Regions from separate parts of the Homo sapiens genome. Here region 2 is linked to region 1. The links come from fine-mapping of genetic effects on gene expression. Tissue or cell type: minor salivary gland. Region 1 holds a variant in brackets; the other region holds the start of a gene. All regions are shown on one strand. Distances are from middle to middle.

Region 1 (8,000 bases):
ATTTATCCTCCAACTCCCCTGCAAATGGTATGGGGGCTGGGGAGGCTTAGCTCCGCCCTCAGGTAGAGAGTCATAGATGCTGGTCTGTGTGTGTTGTGCTTGTGTTGCGTGTGTATCGTATGTGTGTGTGTGTATGTGCATCTGTGTGTCTATGAGTGTCTGTGCTTTATTACAGATTGAATTAGGTCCTCCCCAATACCCATATGTTCACACCCTAAGCCCCAGGACCTCAGAATGTGACTTTGCTTGGAAATAAGGTCATTGAGGATGAAATTATATAGTTAAGATGACTTCATTCTGGAGTAGGGTGGGCACTGATCCAGTGTGACTGGTGTCCTTTACATAAAACAGGAAATTTGAGCTGGGCCCAGTGGCTCTCACCTGTAATCCCAGCAATTTGGGAGGCAGAGGCAGGAGGATTGCTTGAGCCCAGGAGTTCAAGACCAGCCTTGGCAACATAGTGAGACCCTATATCTACAAAAAAAATTAAAATTAGCCAGGTATGGTGGCATGCGCCTGTAGTCCCAGCTACTCAGGAGGCCGAGGTGGGAGGATTGCTTGAGACCAAGAGTTTGAAACCAGTCTGGGCAACATAGCAAGATCTCATTTCCACAAAAAATACAAAAAGTGTCAGGGCATGGTGGCACATGCGTGCATTCCCAGCTACTCAGGAGGCTGAGGTGGGAGGATTGCTTGAGTCCAGGAGATTGAGGCTGCAGTGAGCTGTTAACGGCGCCACTGCACTCCAGCCTGGGTGCCAGAGAGAGACCCTATCTCAAAAAAAAAAAAAAAAAAAAAAAGCCAGGTGCAGTGGCTCACGTCTGTAATCCCGGCACTTTGGCACACCGAGGCGGGTGGATTATCTGAGGTCAGGAGTTCAAGACCAGCCTGGCCAACATGGTGAAACTCCGTCTCTACTAAAAATACAAAAAATTAGCCAGGCGTGGTGATGCACACCTGTAATCCCAGCTACTTGGGAGGCTGAGGTGGGAGAATCGCTTGAACCGGGAGGTGTAGGTTGCAGTGAGCCAAGATCACACCACTGCACTTCAGCCTGGGTGACAGAGCAAGACAAAAAAAAAAGGGAAATTTGGGACACAGACACACACAGGACGAACACCATGGTGAAGCTTTCGCAAGCCAAGAACGCCGGTCACCGCCAAGAGAGGCCTGGGACAGAGTCCACTCGGGCTCAGAAGGATCCAGCGTCGCTCACACCTTCGTCTGGGACTCGCAGCCCCAGAACCGAGAGAGAATAAACAGGTGTTTGCGCCGCCGGGTCTGCGGTACCTGTCAAGGCAGCCCTAGCAAACCGATGCGTGTTTGCATGTGTGAATGCGTGTGTGCGTTTACATGTTCAGGAGTGACAGGTGCTGCAGGGTACTGACGGGGACCGCAGCCTCTGCTGTGCGTCCTAAATATCACGCCCCTCTTTCTGCAAACTGTCGCCCCAGTCACTGCCCCGTCTTCCCTTCGGAGGTCGACCCCGCCGCCCTCCGCTCGGCCGCCAGAGGGCGACCTCGGACTCCAGTCGGACGGGCTCTGCCCTGGCTCCCGGGCTTCAGGTTCTAATAGAAACTCTCGCAGGGGTGGGTCACGCCTGTAATCTCAGCCCTTTGGGAGGCTGAGGCAGGAGAATCTGCCGGGAGGCAGAGGTTGCAGTGAGCTGAGAGCGCACCATTGCACTCCAGCCTGGGCGACAAGAGTGAAACTCCTTCTCAAAAAAAAAAAAAAAAAAAGAAAAGAAAAGAAAAAAAATGGGGAGTGTCCGCCTCTGGACAAGGTGCAGCCGGCATGATGTGGCTCCTGAGTGGCCACGTCCCCTTCAGGGTCACAGGGGCGATCCAGGGAATGAGGAAAGGAAGACGGAACTGCAGGCATGGCGGGGGACCTGGCGGGCAGCTGGGGGCATCGTGTGCCCCCCCCCATGGCTACTGCCCCTGGTGGTGAGTCCCCGGGGTGGGCATCACTAAAAGAGTGACTGTGATGGCTTCATTGGGCTGGGCCCTCCAGGCTCCCCCTCCACCCCTGCCACTGAGCTCCACGCCCGGACCCAGGCCTGGGGGCACTGCAGGGACGGATCCTCAACCCTCTGGCTTCAGCTTCCATCCCAGCGGGGTCCAGCTGGGGACTTGCACCAGGGGGCAGGGGGCTGGGAGAGTGAGGGAGGAAGAGTGAGGGAGGGGAAGTGAGGCCGATTGTCGGTCCCTGGCCTCCTCCCTCTAGAGGACAGCCTGTCCATGGGGGTCCCTCTCTGCAGCCCATCCCCCACCTGTAAGGCGCCCACTGTTGCCAACCCCAGGGGCTGTGTCATTCCGCGTTGCTGCCCCTCACCCTGCCTACGCCTCCACAAACCCCACTGCTAAATCCTTCTTCCACATGAGGGAGCCATCGCCTTCCAACAGCAATTTAGGAGGGTGAATGTGATGTTTGGGATGTCTCACGATTTCCCAGCATGAACGCACAATCTCAAGCTGTGTGTGTGTGTGTGTGTGTGTGTGTGTGTGTGAGAGAGAGAGAGAGAGAGACAGACAGAGAGACTCACTCTGTCGCCCACACTGGAGTGCAGTGGCACAATCTCGGCTCACTGCAACCTCCACCTCCCAGGTTCAAGCGATCCTCTTGCCTCAGCCTCCCAAGTAGCTGGGATTACAGGTGCACGCCACCAACCACACCCAGCTAATTTTTATATTTTTAGTAGAAACTAGTTTTTGCCATGTTGGCCAGGTTGGTATCGAACTCCTGGCTTCAAGTGATCCACCCGCCTCAGCCTCCCAAAGTGCTGGGACTACAGGCGTGAGCCACCCAGTTGAGTCATTTTTTTCTTTTCTTTTTTTTTTTTTGAGACGGAGTTTTGTTCTTGTTGCCCAGGCTGGAGTGCAGTGGCGTGATCTCGGCTCACTACAACCACCACCTCCTGGGTTCAAGCAATTCTCCTGCCTCAGCCTCCAGAGTAGCTGGGACTACAGGCATGTGCCACCATGCCCAGCTAACTTTTGTATTTTTAGCAGAGACAGGGTTTCTGTTTCTCCTTGCTGGTCAGGCTGGTCTCAAACTCCCAACCTCAGGTGATTCACCCGCCTCAGCCTCCCAAAGTGCTGGGATTACAGGCATGAGCCACCATGCCTGGCCCCCCAGTTGAGTCATTTCCAGTCTTCTGAGCCCCAGAAACTTGATAAGATGTCTGTTGTTTTATTTATTAATTTTATTTTTGTTTTATTTATTTATTTATTTATTTATTTATTTGAGATGGAGTCTTGCTCTTTGCCCAGGCTGGAGTGTAGTGGTGCGATCTCGGTTCACTGCAACCTCTGCTTCCCAGGTTCAAGAGATTTCCCTGCCTCAGCCGCCCAAGTAGCCAGGACTACAGGCGCCCG[C/G]CACCACACCCAGCTAATTTTTGTGTATTTTTAGTAGAGATTGGGTTTCACCATATTGGCCAAGCTGGTCTCAAACCCCTGACCTCAGGTGATCTGCCTGCCTCAGCCTCCCAAAGTGCTGGGATTACAGGCATGAGCCATGGCTCCCAGCCTCTTCTTTTTTATTAAAAAAAATAATAATTTGTTTTTGCTTAATTTATTTCACCAGTCATATCACAAAGACATGTGTTGTTTTAGGCCACTGAGTTTGGTATAATTTGTTATGCAGCAGTAGCTGACTGATACAATAGGTGTTCCTGGATTATCTTCAGAAACCTGATAATAATATGTACACTAACTAGGGCTGTATCAGGGTGCATGGCAGGGTTTTTGAAGGCATTTTAAAGAGGTTTAGTTCCTGTCCTCAGGAGCTGCTGCCTAGTGGGGCAGACAGACCATGAATATCCATCATGGAAGGCAGAACACATAAGTACATGGACGAAAGCAGTTCCAGAGGCTGGTGGGTTGGATTCATTTGGCCTGATGTATCATGGAGTCCTCCCAAAAGAGGTGATCATCTGCCTGAGCTTTGCCAGACCTGTTGGGCTGAGAGAAGCCAGACAAGGCTCAGATGGGTGGAGGGTCAGGGTGGGTTGGAAAGGAACAAGTCAGTATGGGTGCAGAGGGCGTCCTGATGGATAGATGGGGCTGCGAAGTGGAACCAGCCATTGAGGCAGCCTCGAATGCTGTCCCCATTGTGGGGACTTTGAAAAGCCACCCTCCTTTGAAACACAGAAGGGGCAAGGAGTAAATTTATATTTCTTTTTTTCTTTTTTTTTGTTTTGAGACGGAGTCTCACTCTGTCACCCAGGCTGGAGTGCAGCGGCACCATCTTGGCTCACTGCAAGCTCTGCCTCCTGGGTTCACGCCATTCTCCTGCCTCAGCCTCCCAAGTACCTGAGACTACTGGCGCCCGCCACCATGCCTGGCTAATTTTTTGTATTTTTAGTAGAGACGGGGTTTCACCATGTTAGCCAGGATGGCCTCGATCTCCTGACCTCGTGATCTGCCTGCCTCAGCCTCCCAAAGTGCTGAGATTACAGGCATGAGCCACCGCGCCCGGCCAATTTATATTTCTGGTAAGGGGTGGGAAGAAGGAGCTTTCTCAGGCTGGAGGGGAGAGAAGACAGATGAGCACAGACACTCCTGGCAGCGGCATGAGGGCCGGGGAGCAGGTGCAGGGCACAGCGGGGCTCTGCAGGGCGGTTGTAGTTGGTGAGGACCACTGGAGCAGGGCCTTGAAGGGCGTCACCCCTCACCTGGCTGCCTCTGGGCCATCCTCCAGTCTGCCAGGGACTAGCAGAGGGGAGAAAGTGGGAGAGGAATCATTATTTGATGACCTCATTCAGCCCTAGGGATTTGGGGTGGCTAAGGTAGAATGGCAGTGGATTATATCTGACATGATGCGGGGTGTCCGGGCTCAGCTGGGCAGTTCTGCTCCCTGTGGTGATGGGGGGTAATCAGCAATCATTTAGTGGCTTTCCCTGGCCGGGAATGTTTGAGGTAGCTCACTCACAGGGCTGGCAGGTGGTGCCTGCTCAGTGGTGCCATCACCCAGGGGCTTCCAGGTGGCTGCCTCACAAGATGGCAGCTGGGTTCCAAGCAGAAAGGACGCTGTTGAGTTCTTTTTTTTTTTTTTTTTTTTTTGAGACACAGTCTCACTCTGTCACCCAGGCTGGAGTGTAATGGCGCAGTCTCGGCTCACTGCAACCTCCACCTCCCAGGTTCAAGTGATTCTACTGCCTCAGCTTCCCGAGTAGCTGGGATTACAGGTGCCCACCACCACGCCCAGCTAATTTTGTATTTTTAGTAGAGACAGGGTTTCACCGTGCTGGCTAGGCTGGTCTCAAACTCCTGACCTCGGGTGATCTGCCCGCCTCGGCCTCCCCAAGTGCTGGGATGACAGGTGTAAGCACCATGCCCAGCCTACTGTCGAGCTCGTAAGACCCTCCCTCAGAAGTCTCAAGGCACCACTTCCCCTGCCTTCTGTTGCTAAAACAGGTCACAGGAGCAGCTACATTCAGGGGAGGGGAAATGAACTGTGTCTTTCCGTGGGAGGAGCAGCAAAGAATCTGTGACCATCACACCCAGCTTTTGAACCACTTCTTCTTTGTGTCTCAGTGTTTGTGGCATGCAGCATCCCTGTTGCCTGGGTCCAGGATGCCACCCTCCTACTGGGGTTGCAGCACCAAGGGGCTGGGCATTCCATCGAGCTGAGGGGTGGGGGCTCTGGATGGGAGGCTCCCTGGGGGGAGCTCACATCTTCCATGAAGCATCATGGTCATTGTTGCCCTGTCCTGCACCCTGTCCACTGCAGGCTGCCCTCTGTGGCTGGCCTTGGTGACAAGAGATGTGGGAGAGACCCTGGTCACCACCATGGGAGGAGTCCCCAGGCACCAGGGGCAAATGAACAGAGTGAATGCCAGGAGGACCATTTAGGTGCAATATGACCAAAAATAAGTTAAGTCCAAGTGGGCTGCATCATCAACAAGAACATCCCCCAGCCTCCATGAAACAGCCCAAAACCTGGAGCAAGACGGTTCCCTGACGCTGAGCGATGCCATTCACAGCAGCGTTCCTGAATACCCCCCATGCAGGCACTCACATGCTCACACACACAATACACAAACCAACACACACCACACACAGGCATGCCAAACACAGGCACACAAATGCACACCCCCCCATAGACCCACCGACGAACACACACACACACACCCAGATGCACAGGTGCGCACACACACCCACGCACACAAAGACCCAGAGACAGACATGTGCACACACATACATATGCACACATGTACGCAGATACATATGACACAAATGCATGAACACATGGACCACACATACCAACATGCCACCTCACACAGACACACCTAACACACACACACCCGTGCACACATGTACATGGACATACACACTGGAAAACAACAAACACATATACAAAATGCAGGCCGGTTGCGGTGGCTCATGCCTGTAATCCCAACACTTTGGGAGGCCGAGGCAGGGGGATCACTTGAGCCTGGGAAGTGAGGGCTGCAGTGAGCTATGATTGAATCTCTGCACTCCAGCCTGGGTGACAGAGGGAGACCCTGTCTCAGAAAAACAAAACACGAAACACAAAATATGACCGGGCGCAGTGGCTCGCGCTTGTAATCCCAGCACTTTGCAAGGCCGAGGTGGGTGGATCACAAGGTCAGGAGATCTAGACCATCCTGGCTAACACGGTGAAACCCCGTTTCTACTAAAAATACCAAAAATTAGCTGGGCGTGGTGGTGGGCGCCGGTAGTCCCAGGTACTCGGGAGGCTGAGGCAGGAAAATGGTGGGAACCCGGGAGGTGGAGCTTGCGCCACTGCACTCCAGCCTGGGCGACAGAGCGAGACTCCGTCTCAAAAAAAAAAAAAAACCCAAAATACAAATGCATGGACATGTATCCACACACACCAACATGTTACATCATAGACAGACACACAAAACACACAAACATACACCCATCCATGGACATACACACAGACACACACAAACATCAACACACAGCATCCCACACAGACACACAAACACACAGCCATGTACCCTCAAAGGACGCTGCAGGATGAGCCTTCATTCTCTGGGACAGCAGAGAAAGTAGACAAAGGAGAGAAACTTCTCTCAGAGTCACCCATCCTCTGACTGGATCCCGTGCCCCTGTGAAGAGGCAGATCCCAGTGCCCCACACTTGGCTCTGGGGCCACCCACTGCCGCCAGGCTCTGTCCCTGCGGTTGGTGGGGGTGAGGGCAGACCCTGCTCTGTGCTGCTTCCTCACCCACCAAAACTTCCTGACGTCGCCCTGTTCCGTTGGCTGCGCTGCATATGGGAATGCAGTGCTGGGCAGGCCCAGCCTCCCAGCTGGGAAGGGGTGTCGCCACTGGCTGCAAAGACAGGTCTTCTTTTCCCCCAAGTCTGTGTTTATGCCCTACTAGAGACTGTTGGGTGTAATTCCCAGAAAGTTCTGGAATGATCTAAAATGAGGAAATAGAAAAAAGTTGTAGAATCGGGCCAGGCGCAGTGGCTCATGCCTGTAAACCCAGCACTTTGGGAGGCTGAGGCAGGTGGATCACCTGAGGTCATGAGTTGGAGACCAACCTGGCCAACATGGCAACATGGGCAGACATCACCAATTAATCATCGAATGATGTTTCTCCTGACCTCCTTCCTCCTGTGTACAGGGTAGGCATCACCAATCAAGCAATGATGTTGGTTGACTGGGGAACGCTGCTGTTTGTCCTGCCTTCCTTCCTCTTGTGCACAGGGCAGACATCACCAATCAACCAATGATGCCCACACTGCTTCCCTCCCATGCACAAAGCAGACATCACCAATCAATCGAGCAGCACCAGGAGGAAACCAATTTGGCAGTTCAATCCGTCTTCAACTCTATCCTTTTATAGATAAGGTTGAGGCCCAGGGACCTGGTCAAGGGCAACTACAGGGCAGATCCCTCCTCCTCTTCCTGGGAATTAGCTTTGTCTCTTGTTCCTGGAGCAAATTCAGGAAAATTGCAAGGTCATGTACATTTTCAGCCCAGGGCATGAGTCACTTGAT
Region 2 (8,000 bases), 890 kb before region 1:
GACAGCTCCCCCAGCCCCAGGGACCACGGCATTGGGGGACCACGGTGTTGGGGGACAGCAGCATTGGGGGACAGCGGCATGGAGCCCTGTGGTCCCTCAATTTCAGGGAGGGACCGGAAGCTTGTTGGGTGCAGTCTGACCTCTCCCACGAACCTCCCTGCAGATGGGCACCAACAAATGCGCCAGCCAGTCGGGCATGACTGCCTACGGCACGAGAAGGCATCTCTATGACCCCAAGAACCATATCCTGCCCCCCATGGACCACTCGACCATCAGCCTCCAGATGGGCACGAACAAGTGTGCCAGCCAGGTGGGGCTCGCCCGGGTGCCCCCGACTCCTCTCCCTGCCCCTCTACACCCTGTGGTCTCGGCCCCTCCCTGGGGCCACCTCCAGCTTCTCTCCCCACTCTCAGTCTCAGCCCCTTCCCTAGACCACCTCCGGCTTCCCTCCCCGCTCTCTGTCTCCGCCTTGGATTTCAGCCTCTGTCATTTCCACCTGGCTGTGGGTCTCTAGGGAAGTTACTACCTCACCCTGTGTCATTTTCCCTTAAGGACTGCCCAAAGGTCCACCCAATTCTTTTTTTTTAATCTTTATTTATTTTATTTATGTATTTATTTTGAGATAGGATCTCACTCTGTTGTCCAGGCTGGAGTGCAGTGGCACGATCTCGGCTCACTGCAACCTCTGCCTCCCGGGTTCAAGAGATTCTCCTTCCTGCCTCAGCCTCCCGAGTAGCTGGGACTACAGGTGCATGCTGCCACACCCGGCCAATTTTTGTATTTTTAGTAGACATGGGGTTTCACCATGTTGCCCAGGCTGGTCTCGAACTCCTGAGCTCAGGCAATCCACCCGCCTTGACCTCCCAAACTGCTAGGGTTACAGGTGTGAGCCACCGCACCCGGCCACACCCAGCTAATTTTTGTATTTTTAGTAGAGACGGGGTTTCACTGTGTTGGTCAGGCTAGTCTTGAACTCCTGACCTCAGGTGATCCTCCCACCTCAGCCTCCCGAGTAGCTGAGACTACAGGCGCCCGCCACCACGCCCGGCTAATTTTTGTATTTTTAGTAGATATGGGGTTTCACCGTGTTGGCCAGGCTGGTCTTGAACTTCTGACCTCAGGTGATCCTCCCACCTCAGCCTCCCGAGTAGCTGGGATTACAGGCATGTGCCACCACGCCCAGCTAATTTTGTATTTTTGGGAGAGACAGGGTTTCACCGTGTTGGCCAGGCTGGACTGGAACTCCTGACCTCAGGTGATCCTCCCACCTTGGCCTCCCAAAGTGCTGGGATTACAGGCGTGAGCCAGTGCACCCAGTGAAGGTCCCCTCTTCTCTCCACCATGACCTGCTCCACCCCTCCTTCCTCTCCAGGTGGGCATGACGGCTCCCGGGACCCGGCGGCACATCTATGATACCAAGCTGGGAACCGACAAGTGTGACAACTCCTCCATGTCCCTGCAGATGGGCTACACGCAGGGCGCCAACCAGAGCGGCCAGGTCTTCGGCCTGGGCCGGCAGATATATGACCCCAAGTACTGCCCGCAAGGCACAGTGGCCGATGGGGCTCCCTCGGGCACCGGCGACTGCCCGGACCCGGGGGAGGTCCCTGAATATCCCCCTTACTACCAGGAGGAGGCCGGCTACTGAGGCTCCCAGCACGCTCTCTCCCCACATCGTCTGCCCATCTGGGTTTTTGGGTTTTTCTGTGTTTTCATCTTTTTTTTTTTTTTCTTAACCCGTTCAGTGCTGCCAGTCAACCAAGGGTCTGTGAGTGTCAGCGTGGGATCAGGCAGCAGAGCTTTTTTCCCCTTTGCCTTGATCCTTCGCAAGGCTGAGCCACTGGGCTGTGGGGGAAGGGGTCAAGGCCATATCCCAATACGTGTAGGGCGAGGGTCCCTGCTGGCACATTCAGGCTGTGCTGGGAAGAAGAGACCTGGGCTTGGAAGGAACCGGTCCCCGACGGTTTCTGCTTGCCTCGCCTCTTCCCCCTTTTGTCAGCTGAGCAGTTTGTGGTTTCTATGCCCGCAAGTTTCAGGAAGTATTCACAAAAGAAAAATACATTTTTTCCCCCAGGGGTGGGGCAAGGACAGTGGAGAGAGTGCTAGGAAATGAGTCCCCTGGGAAAGGGGACCGGGCCGTGATGTTAAATATCTCCGGCTCCCAAGTGACTGGATTTGCCTAGGACCTTCAGACCAACAGACTTCAGACCCTCAGACCTGCCCCGGGGCCAGGTGGAGAAAGTGAGGGCCGTACAAGGAAGTGAAATTCTGAGTTGTTGGGGCTAAGCCTGACCCCCTCTCCATGCTCCCCGCCCCAACCCACTCTGGCCTCAGTAGATTTTTTTTTCAGTTGTGGTTGTTGCCCAGGCTGGAGTGCAGTGGCGCCATCTTGGCTCACTGCACCTCCACCTTCCGGGCTCAAGCGATTCTCCAGCCTCAGCCTCCTGAGTAGCTAGGACTGCAGGTGCTCCACCACGCCCGGCTAATTTTTGTATTTTTAGTAGAGATGGGGTTTCCCCATGTTGGCCAGGCTGGTCTCGAACTCCTGGCCTCAGGTGTGATCCGCCCGCCTCCGCCTCCCCAAGCGCTGAGATTACAGGTGTGAGCCACCGTGCCCAGCCCCTCAGTAGGTTTTAAGGAGCCCCCAGCCCTCCTCCCTTCTGGGCCCGACCAGCTTATACTGCTCCATCTTCCCCGGCCACATGCCCCGCCAAGTACTGCACAGGGACCCCCCACCCAGGGGACCTGCTCCGTGAGATAATGTGAAATACGACTGTGGACCAAACGCAATAAAACCTCTGTTTGTACGAAGAGAAGGTGGCCAAGAGAGTTGGCGTCGATGAGGGCGTGCTTTGCTTTGATGCTTTTGTGGGGAGAGAGGAGGTCTTGGGGGATGGGGGGATCAAGGGGAAAATGTCCACCTCACCATTGGGAGGAGGAGCAAAAGCTGAAGCCACAGGTGAGTCTGGGTGGAATGAATGATTTGAAGGGCCGGGACTTGGGGTAGAGGGAGAGGCTGGGCTTCCTGGCCATTTGGAGAAGAGGCAGTTCCCTCAAATGCCCCCCATGCGCTTTGGCTGCACTCTACCTTACAGCGCAAGTCTCGTGGCCTCAGCCTGGATGTCTCCCCGTTGGCGAACTCCTATTTATCCTCAAAGCCCCAACGGCAATGCCACCTCCTGCCGCGGGAGCCGTCCCCACGCCTCTCACTCTCCCCAGCGCCTTCAAAGCTGTGGACCCACACGCTCCCATTTCAGCTTCACCTCCAGCCTGAAGAGTTTATTTCAACTCTTCTTCCAGAGTGGGAAACGGGTTTTCCTCAAAATCAGGGTAGCCACTATAATCGGAGACTCTAGAATGTTGGCCCCCTCCCCCTCCTGCCATCCTCTGCAGAAGCCGAGGAGCGTTCGTGGAATGAATGAATGAACGAATGATCTAGTGGAACCCCTACTTTACAGACGGACGAGTGTAGTCCCAGAGTCTGGACTAAACTAGAGGGAGCCTGGCCAGCCCCGGGGACAGCGGGGACAGAGGGAACTCCTGCAATTCGGAGCTGCGGTATTGCAGCCGGTTATACAACGTGGGGAGGCAGCCTGGCTCCCCAAAGACAGCGCAGCCTCGTTCCCGGAGGGCGGCCTGCCTGGGACCTGCCGGGCACTCCGCCACCCTACGGTGATGCAGCAAGAGCCGCGCGGTCCCTTTAAGAAACCCGGCTAGGCGAGGCCCTTCTGTGATCCCGTCTCCTCCCTTGGCCCGCGCAGCTCCGACGGAGCAGGCCAGTGAGTGACGGGCAGGTCGCCCAATAGCAGCGTGCAGAGGCAGGGGCGTGCCCCGGCGCTGCTACCTGCGCGGGCAAGCTCAGCGCACTTGGCTTAAGGGGCGGCGCGCTCCCTGCCTGCTGCTGGGCGGAGGGAAGGCGGCAAGAGCTGCGGAGCCCCTGGAAGGTGAGAAGGACTCGGAGAGGGAAGAAGGCCCGAGACTCGAGAATGCGGGGTTGGGGCCGGGAGGGATGCAAGTTCCCTGGGAATTAGGGGGTCCAGCCTCTGACCTCCTTCCGGTGAATGTTGACGACGGCTGAATTGATCACTGATTCTCAAGGGGGGCATCGGACATCTGGGACCCTTAAGAGGGCCTTTGCCGATCACACACCTGCAGCCCCCTGCCCGTTAGAACTCCTGCACTCCCCCTTGCCCCGTCTTACAAATGGAGAAACTGAGCCCACTCCCCCAGATCCTAAGTCCCGCTTGATGTAAAGGAAAGAACCCTGGCGTAAGGGTCTGGGTCTGAGGTCCCAGTTCCGGCCTGGTCACCTTTAGCAACTTCCTGCCCCTCTGTCAGCGTCAGATTCTCCATCTGTGTCAGAGGTGGACCGGCCCAAGGAAAATAGATCAGGAATCGCTGACTCCAGGAGTCTCTATCCCAGCCCCTTCGCCTGACTCTTTCTCTGGCTCCCGCGGTCCCTCTGAGCGATTAATGCTACATAAGGTGTGGGCAGAGCTGGGGTCGTGCCTCCAGCTGGGCAACTGCCTGTCTCTCTGGGTGCCTGGGTTTGCTTTCTTGGGCCTCGGTTTCCACTTCTGTAGAGTGGGGTGATAGTCCAGCACTTCCCCTGGGCGTGTGAAATGTCCAGCACTGCCAATATTCGTTGCTGTTATCTTCGGAGAACAGTGAGGGGAAAGGAATCCTTGCCTGGGCTGGGCCAGGCAGGAGGCTGGGGGTCAGGACCTGGAAGAGGCTTCCAGGTGAGGCTTGGGGTGGAGCCTGGTGACGAAAGCGTTAAGCCCAAACTCGGTCCCTGGAGGATTAGAGGATGATCTTTAAGTCCCCAGCTGTCAGCCCTGCTCAGAGCGACAGTCCTGGCAGCCAATCAGATGCGAGGACGGCTGCGGGTTGCGCTCCCATTGGTTTACTCCACCCCTGGGGTAGCGGAGCCTCTTTATCGAGTGACTACTGTTTGCCTCGCTCTAATCAGAGCTTCCAGGAACCCTGCGCTGTGGGATAAAGGAATGAGGTTCAGAAAGGGGCAGGGAGTTGCCCGCAGCCGCACCGCACGTCTTCAGCCCGACCGTTGTCCTGACCTCTCTGTCCCGTCCCCTGCCCAGTCTCACCATGGCCTTCTGGACACAGCTGATGCTGCTGCTCTGGAAGAATTTCATGTATCGCCGGAGACAGCCGGTAACGCCCCAGTGTGAGACCAGGGCCGGGTGGGCAGGCAGCCCCCACTGTCCCCCACCGTCTCCCACCTATTCTCCCCCAGGTCCAGCTCCTGGTCGAATTGCTGTGGCCTCTCTTCCTCTTCTTCATCCTGGTGGCTGTTCGCCACTCCCACCCGCCCCTGGAGCACCATGAATGTGAGCCCCCCCAGGGACCAGGCACTTTGTGTGTGTAGGGGAAGGCAGATGGCTCACCCGTGCACAGGAATCCCCCGTGCATGTCAGGGAGCCTTCACCAGGCCGCCAATACATGGCATGGGAGTGAGCTCTCCATCGCTGGAGGCATGCAAGCGGTGCCGGGCGACCCGATGGGGGTGGAGTCAGGCAGAGTCCACAGGGCCTCAGCACCAGGCGTCTCCCCGCAGGCCACTTCCCAAACAAGCCACTGCCATCGGCGGGCACCGTGCCCTGGCTCCAGGGTCTCATCTGTAATGTGAACAACACCTGCTTTCCGCAGCTGACACCGGGCGAGGAGCCCGGGCGCCTGAGCAACTTCAACGACTCCCTGTGAGCCAGAGGCAGTGGGTGCGGCCGGCCTGCAAACTCGGGGCTGCAGTGCCGGCCGGAACCCCGCCTCCTGCCCTCTCTCTGTCCCCAGGGTCTCCCGGCTGCTAGCCGATGCCCGCACTGTGCTGGGAGGGGCCAGTGCCCACAGGACGCTGGCTGGCCTAGGGAAGCTGATCGCCACGCTGAGGGCTGCACGCAGCACGGGTGAGGAGGCCGGGGGGCCTCTGGCAGGGCTGAGCTCTGAGCCTCAACTTGCCGGGCCGTGAAATGGGCACAGGGTGGGGGTGGGTGCCTCAGACCAACGTCCCCCCAGCCCCATGCTCCCGTGCGCTCCTCCCCCAGCCCAGCCTCAACCAACCAAGCAGTCTCCACTGGAACCACCCATGCTGGATGTCGCGGAGCTGCTGACGTCACTGCTGCGCACGGTAGGGTGTCGGGGCGGGACCGCGCTGACTTCCTGGGACACTGCACTGGGGATGTCCTGGCACTGCCCCACCCCGGGCCAAGGACCTCCCGTTCCAGGCATCCAGGCTGTCCCTGGTCTCTGCGGTGATGCTGCTTGTCCGTCTGGGCCCCCAGACAGAGTGTGTCTGACCCAGTGAGGAAGACTCGTCTGTGAGATCTCCAATGAGTCCCTTTGCCTCTCAGAGCCTCAGTTTCCCTATTTGTAAAGTGGGGGCTATGATAGTATGGTCTGCCTGGGAACTGGCCAGAGCGCTGGACCCCTAGTGAGTGTTCAAAATCATTGTCCCCCTTGTGGTCTTTCTCCCCAGGAATCCCTGGGGTTGGCACTGGGCCAAGCCCAGGAGCCCTTGCACAGCTTGTTGGAGGCCGCTGAGGACCTGGCCCAGGAGGTACGAGGCCCCACTCATCCTCAACCCCCATGGAGGCAACGTTGGCAGGCAGCCTGCGCCGGGAGGGTCTGGGGCAGCCCGGGCACTTCCCTTGGGTGGGTTTTCAGGAGGATTAGACAGCGAGAGGGAGAGGCTGCCCCTGGCCCAGTGCCCTGCCCTGGTTAGGGCTTGGAGGTGGGATCATTGCCAGCTCCGTCTGGTAACCTCTCTCTAGCTCCTGGCGCTGCGCAGCCTGGTGGAGCTTCGGGCACTGCTGCAGAGACCCCGAGGGACCAGCGGCCCCCTGGAGTTGCTGTCAGAGGCCCTCTGCAGTGTCAGGGGACCTAGCAGCACAGTGGGCCCCTCCCTCAACTGGTACGAGGCTAGTGACCTGATGGAGCTGGTGGGGCAGGAGCCAGAATCCGCCCTGCCAGACAGCAGCCTGAGTGAGTGACTGACCTCGGTTTCCCCTCTTGGGAAGTGGAACTCTGGGCAGGGGGGCAGGGCCTCATGGCACCCCCATCCCAGGCCCCGCCTGCTCGGAGCTGATTGGAGCCCTGGACAGCCACCCGCTGTCCCGCCTGCTCTGGAGACGCCTGAAGCCTCTGATCCTCGGGAAGCTACTCTTTGCACCAGATACACCTTTTACCCGGAAGCTCATGGCCCAGGTGGGGGCAGCCTGGATGCTGGGGTGGGAGGGTGGTGGCCAGAGCCCATCCAGTACCCTCAGTCCAGGTGGGCCAGGGCCAGGCCGGAGGGTCACGGAAACTATTTGAAGAAGTAGGAGTTAGCCGATGGAGGGGGATCAGCTTGTGCGGAGGATCAGAGGCACACGCAGGAGCAAGGCAGAGGGGGCAGGGGGTGGGCAGGGGTCCTCAGAGGAGGAGAGGGTCATCAGTGGAGGGGGTGCTGTCCACAGGTGAACCGGACCTTCGAGGAGCTCACCCTGCTGAGGGATGTCCGGGAGGTGTGGGAGATGCTGGGACCCCGGATCTTCACCTTCATGAACGACAGTTCCAATGTGGCCATGCTGCAGGTGTGCGGGGGTGCTGGGGAGGTGGGATGTGGCTCCCCGGTGAGGAGGGTAGACAGGCCCGGTGGATGGGAAGGTGGGCTCCGTGCAGACCCCCACTTTTTTTTTTTTTTTTTTGAGATGGAGTCTCGCTCTGTCGCCCAAGCTGGAATGCAGTGGCGTGATCTCGACTCACTGCAACCTCCACCTCCCGGGTTCAAGCGATTCTCCTGTCTCACCCTCTGAGTAGCTGGGACTACAGGCGCCCACCACCACGCCCGGATGATTTTTTTTTTTTATTTTTAGTAGAGACGGGGTTTAACCATGTTAGCCAGGATGGTCTCGATCTCCTGACCTCGTGATCCACCCGCCTCGGCCTCCCAAAGTGCTGGGATTACAGGCGTGAACTACCACGTCCTGCTTTTTTTTTTTTTT

Evidence for each region. PIP is the estimated chance that this variant, and not a neighbour inherited with it, causes the effect.
Region 2: ABCA7 starts here. The variant in region 1 is fine-mapped to the expression of ABCA7 in minor salivary gland (GTEx, PIP 0.98).

What each region holds. Positions count from the first base shown.
Region 1 is chr19:1,927,977-1,935,976 of GRCh38, forward strand. No RefSeq gene overlaps it. Among named protein-coding and RNA genes, the nearest start is that of CSNK1G2, 9.2 kb to the right of the region's middle. RefSeq lists enhancers at 785-1,667, 1,766-1,855 and a silencer at 1,374-1,668. The variant C/G (reference allele first, on the strand shown) is at 3,378.
Region 2 is chr19:1,036,253-1,044,252 of GRCh38, forward strand. ABCA7 (ATP binding cassette subfamily A member 7) reads left to right here and starts at 3,855. Exons shown (of 47, transcript NM_019112.4): 1 at 3,855-3,944; 2 at 4,973-5,175; 3 at 5,258-5,351; 4 at 5,579-5,720; 5 at 5,812-5,924; 6 at 6,063-6,145; 7 at 6,494-6,574; 8 at 6,789-6,999; 9 at 7,082-7,221; 10 at 7,473-7,589. The coding sequence starts at 5,110. It overlaps CNN2 (calponin 2), which reads left to right. Exons shown (of 7, transcript NM_004368.4): 6 at 164-310; 7 at 1,373-2,813. The coding sequence ends at 1,648. RefSeq lists enhancers at 1,861-2,420, 2,008-2,509, 2,510-3,009, 4,902-5,699 and a silencer at 4,851-4,990.